Homo sapiens: one gene and its partner. The protein of the gene in region 2 interacts with the protein of the main gene of each other region in a pairwise test. Each region holds a gene or a part of one and is shown on either strand. Other genes may lie near its edges.

Region 1 (7,288 bases), on a different chromosome or scaffold from region 2:
CAACCTCCATGCTGCCTGTCTGCCACCCACTTCTCCTGGGCCAAGTCCAGCAGCTGCAGGAGGTGCTCGTATTTCCGGTTGGTGTCCTCCACCCGGGTCCTCAGCAGGGGTGTGGTGCCACTGCCTGGGAGGGCCTGGATGAAGGCTTCGCCCTCAGCCGTGCTCCGCGTCTTCTCAGGTTCAATCCGCAGTAGCTCGTTGGTGATGTTCTGTGGGAACCAGGGCCCCTCAGTTTTGGACACAGCCAGGCAGCCCCTTCCCCTGAGGATGTGCCCAGGGTGAGCACAGATTCCCACATCAGGCACAGTGGAAGCAGCTGGAGAGGCCTGGCACATTCTGGGGCTCTGACCCGGCATCTGGACCCCAGCCTGAGGGCTGTATTTTTCACGAGCATCCCAGGGAACCGCTGAGGTGGAATGGACTAGTGACACCAGAAGCACCCAGGCAGCTGCCGGGCCTGTGCTGTCCTCAGCACTGCACGCGGACGCTTCTGTTTAATCTTTGCGGCAACCCCGGGAGGTGAGTACTACGACTCCACCCAGTCACGGGTGGGGGTGTGACGACTCCCAGCAGCTTAGGAAGGGACTTGTGGGGTCAGGCTACACCCGAGACCGGCATCCTCTCGCCCTGACTTGGCTCTCACTCTGAGGCCCCATCAGGGGCTATGGCACTTCTCCAATCCCAGATCCTCTTCTGTAAAATTGGAGTGCTACTCACTGCCTCAGAGGGCTGCCTTGAGGATGTGGGAGACTTTGTATAGGAAAGGAGGTGGGGGGAGGTGGCCCCTCCACGTCCCCCCTGGCATCAGCTCACCCTGTCCTCGCCACTGCCCTGTGAGCAGGGCCAACCCATCCTACTGAAGACACTGAGGCCTGGAGTTTATAAATACAAACGCTAACGTGTTTGCAGTCAAGCCAGCCGGTGACCCAGTCCTGCGGAATTCCACAGCCCATGTGCCATGCCAGGCGTCAGATCGACAAGCCGTGCAGGAACAATGCAAGTCCTGCCAGCTCTTTCTCCTGGGGAGGTAATGACAGCAGCCCTGCCACCTCCATGACTTGGGACCCTTTTACATGCAGCAGGCTGTCCCTGACAGACAGCTGCAGTGAATATCCCAAGACTCCATGGGGAAAAGACCTCAAATAGGGGCCCCAGGGGGCCAGTGCAGGGCTCCCCCGGCCCCACCTGTGCTCCTGACCCGCAGGTACCTTGAGGTCCTTGGCCCGCTCGGCACTGTCCTGCACAGCCCGGCCTTGCTCCAGTGGTGGCCGCAGGATCCCTGTGATGGCCTTCTCCTGCCGGTCCAGGTCGCTGGCCACCTTGTCCAAGCCAGCCAGCAGCTGCCGCCCCTGTAGGTCAGAGGCATCTGTGGAGGGAGGGAGGACACAGGCAGGTGTGACAACGGGCCAGGGGTGTGAGGCCCAGGGATGGACCTAGGCAGCCAGCCCCCCGCCGTCTCATCCACAGCACAGACCCTGGTCCAGCCCCTCCTCCCCGGTACCCCCAGAGCCTCAGGCGAGTGGCCCTGGCACCCACCTCCGGGATTCTCGGTCTTCAGCACCTCATACCGCTGCTGCAGCGTGCGTTTGCTCCCAGCTGCCTTCTGCCGCACGCTCCGGTACTGGCTGCCCAGGCTGTGAGGACAGAAATGAGCTGGGAACCTGGGCAGCCCACCACCCCCTGCACCCACAGAGGCGGGACTGCGGACTCTGGCTGGGCAGACACCCCAGAGGAGCCTGACAGCTCCTTAGATGCGGACAGCAAGTGCTCACTGTGGCACTGGCCTTTCTGTGCTCCTGGGCTCAGAGCTCTTCTCCCTCCTTCCCTCCTCTTTCGTAGGAAGTCTCACTACCTAAAATTGTCTGTCCAATAATCACCACCAAGATGTTACTTCTGAGGGAGCATACACAGTAGGTGCTCAATAAATACTTAATAAATGAAGGCATTCCTTGAATGATCCACTCATTCAGCAAGGAGTTCCTGGGCACCTACTTTGTACCAGGTACTTAACTAGGCCCTGGAGAGAGGAAATTCAAGGAGCCCAGGCCCAATGAGACTGACGCATACGCTAGTCACTTAATAAAAAGCGGTGCGTGCAGTGGAAGAAGGTGCCTGGGAGCAAAGAGGAGGCAGCCCTTATCCCAGCTGAGTCCTCCAGCCAAGGGGCTGGGGTCTGCAAGTACAGGGAGCAGTGCGTGCGGGAGTCAGGGGCCCTTAGAAACTGCTTAGAAACTCGTGAGGGGGCCAGGACGAAGCCCAGAGCTAGACATTCATGTTTAGCAAGTCAGCTGGCCCACAATCTGCCCCTCTCCTGCATGAACTTCCAAGGGGGTGCAGATGGAGAGTGTCAGCGACCCCGCGCTCCCCACAGGCTGAGTCCAAATCCCCGGGGCTATGAATGGGGCCTGAGAAGCCCTGGGGGTGGGACTGGTCCATGCAGACTCCCGCCTTTGCCCTTGTACCTGTCAGCCAGAGCCAGGGCCTCAGGGTCTGTGGGGGGGATCACAAAACACACGGCCGGAGCAATCAGCTTGTTCCCAGCGCTGTCCATGAGCTCCCAGCTCTCCCCGTTGTTCTTCTGCAGGGTGTAGCTGTAGCCCCGCGAGATCAGGCCCTGGCGGGGGCAGGCTGGACAGTCAGGATCCCGGCAGGGCCTGAGGGCCTGGGAGCCCGGTTGCCATCTCAGCCCCCGACTCTTGGACCTGGGGAGCCCCGGCTCATCACTTGGACCCTCCCCGTAGAGTGGGGAGGGGCATGCAGGAGAAGCACATGTGTTGAGGCTGCCGGCCCAGCAACCCACCTCCATTTCCCTTTGGGGAACCTTCCCTCCCAATTCCCAGTCCCTGTGGTCTCTCCTTCTCCATTCCCAAGCTCCAGATGGACATGTGACTTGGACCTGGCCAATGACTGGCATTCGCCAGCCACAGTCATTGGTATAGGGTGGACCCTGGCATTCCCTGGCCACAGTGATTGGTGTAGGATGGACACGTGACTCACAGTGAGCCAATGAGAACCTGGCCTGGGACTTCTGAGGAGGGACTGGGGTTGCTAAGCTGGTGGAACACAAGGCCAGGGCAGCCGAGGTGGGGGCGGCATAGGGGTGCCAGTTGGCCTGCACCAGGGGAAGGGTTGGCAGAGTGACACCAACCACGGAGACAGGCACAGGCTCCTGAGAACGGCGCCTGAGGCCCGGGATCCAACCATGTTACCCCAAAAACTTTGTAGTGATGTGAACAGAGGAGCTGGCCCCACGCACCTGCTCCCCCTCAAAGTCACAGAGTGCCTCCACGGGGATGGGCTTGAGCGGAGTCTCCCGGCGGTACTTGAGGGGCACCACCTGCTGGCCTCGCTTCTGCAGCCCCTGCACCACGTCCTCATACTTGTCCAGCACCTTCTCCTGGTCCTGGAGAGAACGGGGTCAGGGGCCCAGGTGAGACCAACAGCCTTCCCCCTGGTGGGAGGACGCAGAGCAGGGGCTGGATTCAGCAGGTGGGGTGCTGTGGAGGGGCCTGTACAGGGCTGAGGGCAGGCATGGTGTAGAGGGGTCCCCCGCCCCCCGGGCCAGCAGGGGTCCTGGGCCATCGCTCACATCCAGCTCCCGCAGCAGCAGCTCAATCTGGTACCGGTCCTTGAAGTCAGGGCCATACTTCTGGTTCAGGTCCGAGTCCACCTTGCGCAGCAGCTCCTGAGCGTCCTTCACGTCTTCGTGAAACTAGGGGAGAAGGTGGCTCTGTTACAGCCAGGAAACCACTAGAAGCACCTGGGCTTCTGTCGGAGGCTTCAAGCTCATCCCTCAGGCGGGGCTGGGCCTCCGGTTCACCTGGAGTCCAGCATGGGACCCTGTGCTGAGCCTGAGGCTCCTCTGCGTGGAGACAGCCCCACCCTCCCTGAGCTGGCTCCTTAGGGGCCTCACTGGGAAAAGCCAGGTCCCTTCCCACCCATCCATGAGATGCCACCTCTGTGACATGTTTTCTTGGATGTATCAGTAAGTCTTGAGGTGTCTTTGATTCAGTTCCTCTCTCTGTACTAGGAACATCCAGACTTAATACTATAGCTTCTTTCTAGGTTTTGATAATAGCCTCCCCTTTTTGTTCTCGAAAATTCTCTTGCCCATTCTTCAGTCTATCAACTCTTGGTTCACTGTCAGCTATCCCCTGGGCTGAGCACCTGGGCTGCAGCCATAAACAGGACCTGAAGCCCCCACTGTGCGGCTCAGACAGGGAATGAGGAGTGACACGGCGTCGCCCACATCCAGCTTTCCCCAGACACCTCAATCCTAAGAATTACCCGCAGCTTCTTAAGAACTCTCATTCCTCTGGAAACAGACAAGTGTCCAGCCACAGATGAGTGGATAAACACAGTGGTCTAGCCATACAATAGGATATGATTCAGCCATAAAAAGGGGTGAAGCACTGAAAATGCTACAACACGGATGAACCCGGAAAACATGATGCTCAGTGAGAGAAGCCAGACACAAAAGGGCAGAGATTGCATGATCCCACTGATTCTTCATATTCGTTCTAGGTGTGACACTTCTGGAACAGGCAAGTCCATAGAGACAGCAAGAAGACCAAAGGTGACCTGGGGCTGGGGGAGTGGGAATGGAAAACTTACTGCCTAATGAGTACGGGGTTGTTTTTTTTTTTTTTTTTTGAGGCGGAGACTCACTCTGTCGCCCAGGCTGGAGTGCAATGGCGCGATCTCAGCTCACTGCAACCTCTGCCTCCTGGGTTCAAGCAGTTCTCCTGCCTCAGCCTCCCATCTGGGACTACAGATATGGGCCACCACACCTGGCTAACTTTTGTATTTTAGTAGAGATGGGGTTTCATCATGTTGGCCAGGCTGGTCTTGAACTCCTGACCTCAGGTGATCCAGTCGCCTCGGCTTCCCAGAGTGCTGGAATTACAGACATGAGCTACCGTGCCCAGCCAGGGTATAGGGTTTCTGTTTGGGGTGATGGAAAGTTTTGCAAGTAGATGGTGGTGATGGTTGCATAACATTGCGAATGCAATGAATGCCACTGAATTGTACACTTAAAAATGCAAACTGGCCGGGTGTGGTGGCTCACACCTGTAATCCCAACACTTTAGGAGGCCGAGGCGGGAGGATCACCTGAGGTCAGGAGTTCGAGACCAGCCTGACCAACATGGCGAAACCCCATCTTTACTGAAAATACAAAAATTAGCTGGGTGTGGTGGTGGGCACTTGTAATCCCAGCTGTTCAGGAGGCTGAGGCAGGAGAATCACTTGAACCCAGGAGGTGGAGGTTGTAGTGAGCCGAGATGGCACGACTGCACTCCAGCCTGGGTGACAGGGCAAGACTCTCTCAAAAAAAAAAAAAAAAAAAAAAAAGGCAAATTTTGTTTTATGTATCTGCATGTATATTATAGATTTTACCAAAATTAAAACCCTACACACTCACCCTGGGCCCCATGTGACCTGGGGAATCAGACTCTGGCCCTGGTCCCCAGGGAAGTTGGACAGGGGCCGGCAAGCTTGGGACATGTCTGCACACGCCATCAGAAGCATGGGTGCTGGGGGCCTGGGATGGCTGCCCCGCAAGGCTCCTGGACCAAGGAGCACGAGGCCACACATGAGCCAGGTAGGCACTGAGCGCTCTCAGAGAGTAGCACCCCCGGTGCTGGGGGGACTCCCAGGAAAGGTAAGTACCTGGTGGTAGTCCTCCATGTACTTGAGGTGGCTCTCCTCGCAGATGAGCAGGTTCAGGTACTCCTTCCAGTCTGCGTGCACAGCCTCCATGTGCGCCTGCCAGGAAGAGAAGGGGCCGGTCACCACTGGGCAGGTACTGCAGACACCAAGGGAGGGACTGCTGGGATATTGGGCTGGGGCATGGCGGGGGAGGGAGGCATCTGGCATCTGTCTGGGTGTGGCTACCACAGGGGTAGCCAGCTTCTGCTCAGGAGTGGGAGGAGGAGAGAGGGGTCACGTCAAGGAGCCAAACAGGGATGCCACATACGGATGCCCAGGCTGTGCAGTGCACAAAGGGCAAGTGGGGGCTGTGGTGCCTTCGGCAAATCTGTACAAAGGCACTGTCATGGACCGAACAGTGTCCCACCAAATCCATGACCCTGGCCAGGCATGGTGGCTCACACCTGTAATCGCAGCACTTTGGGAGGCCGAGGCGGGTGGATCACCTGAGGTCAGGAGTTTGAGACTAGCCTGGCCCACATGATGAGACCCTGTCTCTACTAAAAATACAAAAATTAGCTGGGCATGATGGTGTGCGCCTGTAGTCCCAGCTACTTGGGAGGCTGAGGCAGGAGAATTGCTTGAACCCGGGAGGTGGAGGTTGCAGTGAGCCAAGATTACACCATCGCACTCCAGCCTGGGCAACAACAGCGAAACTCCATCTCAGGCGGGGTTGGTGGCATTGTGGGGGTTGGGAAGAATGCGACCTTATTTGGGAATAAGATCTTTGCAGATGTCATTAGTTAAGGATCCTGAAATTAGGGTGAGCCCTAAATCCACTGACTGATATCCTTATAAGAAGAGAGGATACAGAGAGACATGGGGAGAGAAGGCCATGTGAAGACGGAGGAAGGGACTGGAATGATGCAGCCACAAGCCAAGGGCTGTTGGCAACCCCCAGAAGCCGGAAGAGCAAGGAAGGCACATGTCCTGGAGCTTCCAGAGGGAATGAGGCCCTAAGACACCTTGATTTCAGACTTACAGCCCACAGACCTCTGAGAGAATGAATTTCTGTTGTTTAAAGCCACTAAGTTTGTTTTAACTTGTTGCAGCAACTCTAGGAAACTAATACAGACCCCACAGGGGCTTCAGAAGTCCAGGGGCTGAGGGCAGAAGTGTCAACGGATCAGGATAAATGGAGGAGGCAGAGTCAGACACAGCAAGAAAGAGACAGACAGACACAAGATGCAGCTTGCAGGACCCCCAGCTCCGGGGTCTGCCCGAGCTCCAGGCGGCCCACAGGCAGCGGCCAACCAGAAGCCACCCTGGGGGAGGTGTCTGGTCTCGGGGTGCATGAACCTCAATGGAGTTCCTCCCGGGGTGCTCGGCCGCCAGCAGCTGGTCGCCCTCGCTGTGCAGTTTGTTGATTCTCTCCTCTTTGGCCTCCAGGTTCCGGTTGATGAAATTCTGCAGTGGGGGGCAGTGGAGGGGCCTCAGTGCCCAGCCTGGCGGTCCCGTGCTCCTTCCAGGGCTGCCTCCTCCCTGATGCCCCAGGCCCCCAGAACCCACCTCATACTGGCGCCGGCGGCTGGGGTAGTCGAGGTTGCGGTCACTCCAGTCGTACTGCATGCGGCCCTTG
Region 2 (4,131 bases):
AGTAATCCGCCTGCCTTGGCCTCCCGAAGTGCTGGAATTACAGGCGTGAGCCACTGCGCCCAGCTACCTGTCATTTCTAATATAGCCTGCAGGGGGAACCAAAGCCTGACTTTTTGTTTTTGTTTCTGTTTTTGTTTTTGTTTTCTATGGGAAATAGTGCTCTCCTGGGAGGTGGGTTTCCAAATCTCTGCTTGGACACATGAATTTGAGGGTTGTGCTCTCCACTAACCCAAGAATTCCCATGCTGGGGAGGGTAGCTTGGCCCTCCGCTTGCTTCCCAGTTCATACAGATGGTCCTTTGCTCCCTCTATTTCTCACCTTGTTCTAATGCCTGTTTCTCAATTATTTTGCCTGAAGTTTCCTGGAGAATGAGGGTGAGGGGAGACCTGGAGTGGGAGACCTGGGTGTGGATTACTGTAGCACTAAGGCAAAACAGGATTCCTGCGGAATAGCCAAGTGCACATCAAAGGCACTTCCAACTCCAGTGCCTCTTCCCGGTCCATGTCCTGCTCCACCCAACCTTCAATCAGGGAACACAAACAACAGCGAAGTTTGCCAAAAGAATTCGAGTATCAGTGAGATGTTCTGGCCAGGGTACAGGAGGGATGAGTGAGGCAGAAACTATCAAAGAAAACTCATTTCCCCACACCCAAGAAGGAGCTGGATGACCCAGGTACAGATATAATTTTGAGATGGGAAAATTAAGGGATTTTAAAGAAACAGTTCCAGCCTCAACAAGAAGCTAGAGAATGTGGTGCTCAGTGAGGGGTTATCCTACTTGGAGGCCCAGCTGGTCTCCCAGGTTCAGCCAAACACGGAAATCTCAGATCCTCGGATGTCATGTGGGGTGGGGCAGGGAAGTCTCACATGTCTTCAGCCCTGCACAAGGCCAGGAGGGCTGACTGGCAATCCCCTTTCACTGCATCCTGCAGACAAGGGAATTCAGTGTTAGAAAGATCCACCACCACTATGGCCCAAGTGCTCTCTCCCCTCCTTTGGGCTGGTCCATCACAGTTCATCTGGGAGGGAAGGGTCCTCCCGGGAGCTCAGAGTCCTGCACTACATTAACCAAAGACTCCTGGGTTTTCTTTTTTAAGATGGAGTCTTGCCCTGTCACCCAGGTGGGAGTGCAGTGGCACGATCTTGGCTCACTGCAACCTCTGCCTTCTGGGTTCAAGCGACTCTCCTGCCTCAGCCTCCTGAGTAGCTGGGATTACAGGTGCACGCCACCATGCCTGGCTAATTTTTGTATTTTTAGTAGAGACGGGGTTTCACCATGTTGGTCAGGGTGGTCTTGAACTCCTGACCTCGTGATCCGCCCACCTCAGCCTCTCAAAGTGCTGGGATTACAGGCGTGAGCCACTGTGCCTGGCTAACTACTGGGTTTTCTATGGGGCAAGAATATGCTCAGCTGTGTGCAGGGAGTGAGGGTGGAGGTGAGGAGTGAAGGCCTGAGGCTCCAGGCTAAGAAGTAGCCAAGTTTCACCTGGAGAGAAGAGTAGAGGGACTTCCCAAATTTCTTCCTGAACTCAGCTCTGATACTCAGAAGGTCAGTCTCACATCGAGAGATAAGGATGCGAATCAGGACTTGGTAATTGGGCTCAGTTTCCTAGTAGGGGAAGAAAGAGATGGGGGGTAGTTAGTGAGAGTCTCACTGAGAGTAGGGGTTGAATGGCTTGGAGGGTTATTGTAGGAAGGGGAGGCAAGGTGGGAGTCAAGGGATAAGAGTGTACATTATACATTATCTCGGGACAAAAGTTATGTTTGTCCATCCTCAAGGAAGATGACACAGCAGGAAAGATCAGTCTCTGTGGGGGCAGCTTGAGTATTTATTTCTTTCCACATGTCTTTCCTGCCCCTACCATTAGCTTAGAGCTGTGTACCTCCAGAATTTGGTGGTGAGCAGCTCCAAAGATAGGTACACCAGGAAGGCTAGAAAAGATTTGGTGCATATAAAGACTGCCAGCATGAAAACCAGGAAAACTGCTTTTAACTTTCAAGTTAGTGAATATCCAAGGAGGATATACCTGCCCTATCCCTAAACTGAGCTGATGAGGCTCTGATAGGGTTCAAGGTTGTGTGACTTCTAGTTCTGATTCCAACCCAATAGGGCCATCTCACAGCCCCATCTCTGCATATTAGTTTCTCCGGTTGGACCCTTAGGCTGAAACATTGCTATCTTCCTCCTGTACATGCAGCAGGCCTGTTTTTTGGCTAAAGAAAGTAATGAAAGGTTCAGTTTAGAAATAACAGGCCAGGCACAGTGGCTCATGCCTGTAATCCCAGCACTTTGGGAGGATGAGGCGCGTGGATCATCTGAGGTAGGAGTTCGAGACCAGCCTGACCAAAATGGTGAAACCCCGTCTCTACTAAAAATACAAAAATAAGCCAGGCATGGTGGTGGGTGCCTGCAATCCCAGCTACTTGGAAGGCTGAGGCAGGAGAATTGCTTGAACCCAGGAGGCGGAGGTTGCAGTGAGCTGAGATCGCGCCACTGCACTCCAACCTGGGCAAGAAGAGCAAAACTCCGTCTCAAAAAAAAAAAAAAAAAAGAAAGAAAGAAAAAAGAAATAACAGGCCAGGTGTGGTGGCTCATGCCTGTAATCCCAGAATTTTGGGAGGCCAAGGCAAGCAGATCATTTATGGTCAGGAGTTCGAGACCAGCCTGGCCAACATGGTGAAACCCCCGTCTCTATTAAAACTACAAAAATTAGCCAGGTGTGGTGGTAGGCGCCTATAATCCCAGCTACTGAGGAGGGTGAGGTAGGAGAATTGCTTGAACCTGGGAGGCGGACGTTGCAGTAAGCTGAGATCACACCACTGCACTCCAGCCTGGGACAGAGCAAGACTCCGTCTCAAAAAAAAAGAAAAGAAAAGAAATAACACAGGTACAAGTCATCAAAATCCTGAATTATAATTGATTATACTAAGTAATGTGTTGTTATGAGAGATTTTTAAATAAAAACTTTTAATTGTAAAATTCCTGTGTTTTTTTTTTTCTGTGCACCAGTGTTGTCATCAATTCCTAATATCCTCATTTTCAGAGTTTCCTGAGTCACTTTACTCACAAGACTCTTCCCAGAACTGCCTACAACACATACTTAGGGCATCCCAATAGATCATAAACTCCTTTGACAAAACAAAAGAAAATGAAGTAAAACAGGATGCTCCAATTCATTTAGACTCATTACCTAATTGTCAGTGGACCTAATGTCTACTTCATTTTAACTTTTATGCATCATTAGTTTTGTATTGTCATAAAGATTGCCAATTGCTCCCCAGTATCCATTCTTCTCTTCTTCCAACGCTTGTTACTCTAAAGTTACAGAATTGGGCAAGAGTCACTCATTAACTGAATACTCTCATTGTTGTACAAGTATTCTTTTTTCTTGCTCTGTCACCCAGAGTGGAATGCAGTGGCGTGAATTCAGCTCACTGCAACCTCCGCCTCCCAGGTTCAAGCAAGTCTCCTGCCTCAGCCTCCCAAGCAGCTGGGACTATAGCATGTGCCAAACGCCCAGCTAATTTTTTTATTTTTAGTACAGGTGGGGTTTTACCATGTTGGCCAGGCTGGTCTCAAACTCCTGACCTCAAGTGATCTGCTCGCTTCAGCATATATATATATGGTTTGTTTGTTTAGATGGAGTCTCACTCTGTTACCCAGGCTGGGGTGCAGTGGTGCGATCTCAGGTCACTGTAACCTCTGCCTCCCAGGTTCAAGCAATTCTCCTATCTCAGCCTCCCAAGTAGCTGGAAATACAGGTGCACACCACCACACCTAGCTAATTTTGTATATTTAGTAGAGACGGGGTTTCACCATGTTGGTCAGTCTGGTCTCGAACTCCTGACCTCGGGTGATTCACCTGCCTTGGCCTCCCAAAGTGCTGGGATTACAGGCATGAGCCACCATGCCTGGCCTAATTATAATACTTAATCGTATACCTGGCATTGCATATGGCCCTAGGATCTTCACCAGGAACATTAATTTTTACTACAGATTGGTGGAAATTTGTCCTGAATCAGCCATTGCTGATTTTCTGAAGGTTGTTTTTCTGAATAAATATTCTTCACAATTTATGTTTTCATATATCTACATATCTCTCATAAAAGAATAATACAGGCTGGACACGG

The links.
Region 1: the proteins of ANXA9 (region 2) and PPL interact in binary tests that used the Homo sapiens proteins (3 or more experiments, as listed by UniProt).

What each region holds. Positions count from the first base shown.
Region 1 is NC_000016.10:4,892,005-4,899,292, forward strand, and holds part of PPL (periplakin), read right to left. Parts: coding exon 7,219-7,288; intron 7,117-7,218; coding exon 7,009-7,116; intron 5,767-7,008; coding exon 5,671-5,766; intron 4,577-5,670; exon of another isoform or gene 3,713-4,576; coding exon 3,590-3,712; intron 3,431-3,589; exon of another isoform or gene 3,404-3,430; coding exon 3,257-3,403; intron 2,663-3,256; coding exon of another isoform or gene 2,615-2,662; coding exon 2,463-2,614; intron 1,635-2,462; coding exon 1,537-1,634; intron 1,367-1,536; coding exon 1,209-1,366; intron 210-1,208; coding exon 31-209; intron 1-30. UniProt on the Homo sapiens protein: Component of the cornified envelope of keratinocytes. May link the cornified envelope to desmosomes and intermediate filaments. May act as a localization signal in PKB/AKT-mediated signaling.
Region 2 is NC_000001.11:150,992,055-150,996,185, reverse strand, and holds the end of ANXA9 (annexin A9), read right to left. Parts: intron 1,610-4,131; coding exon 1,487-1,609; coding exon of another isoform or gene 1,373-1,486; exon of another isoform or gene 927-1,372; coding exon 864-926; 3' UTR 552-863; downstream 1-551. UniProt on the Homo sapiens protein: Low affinity receptor for acetylcholine known to be targeted by disease-causing pemphigus vulgaris antibodies in keratinocytes.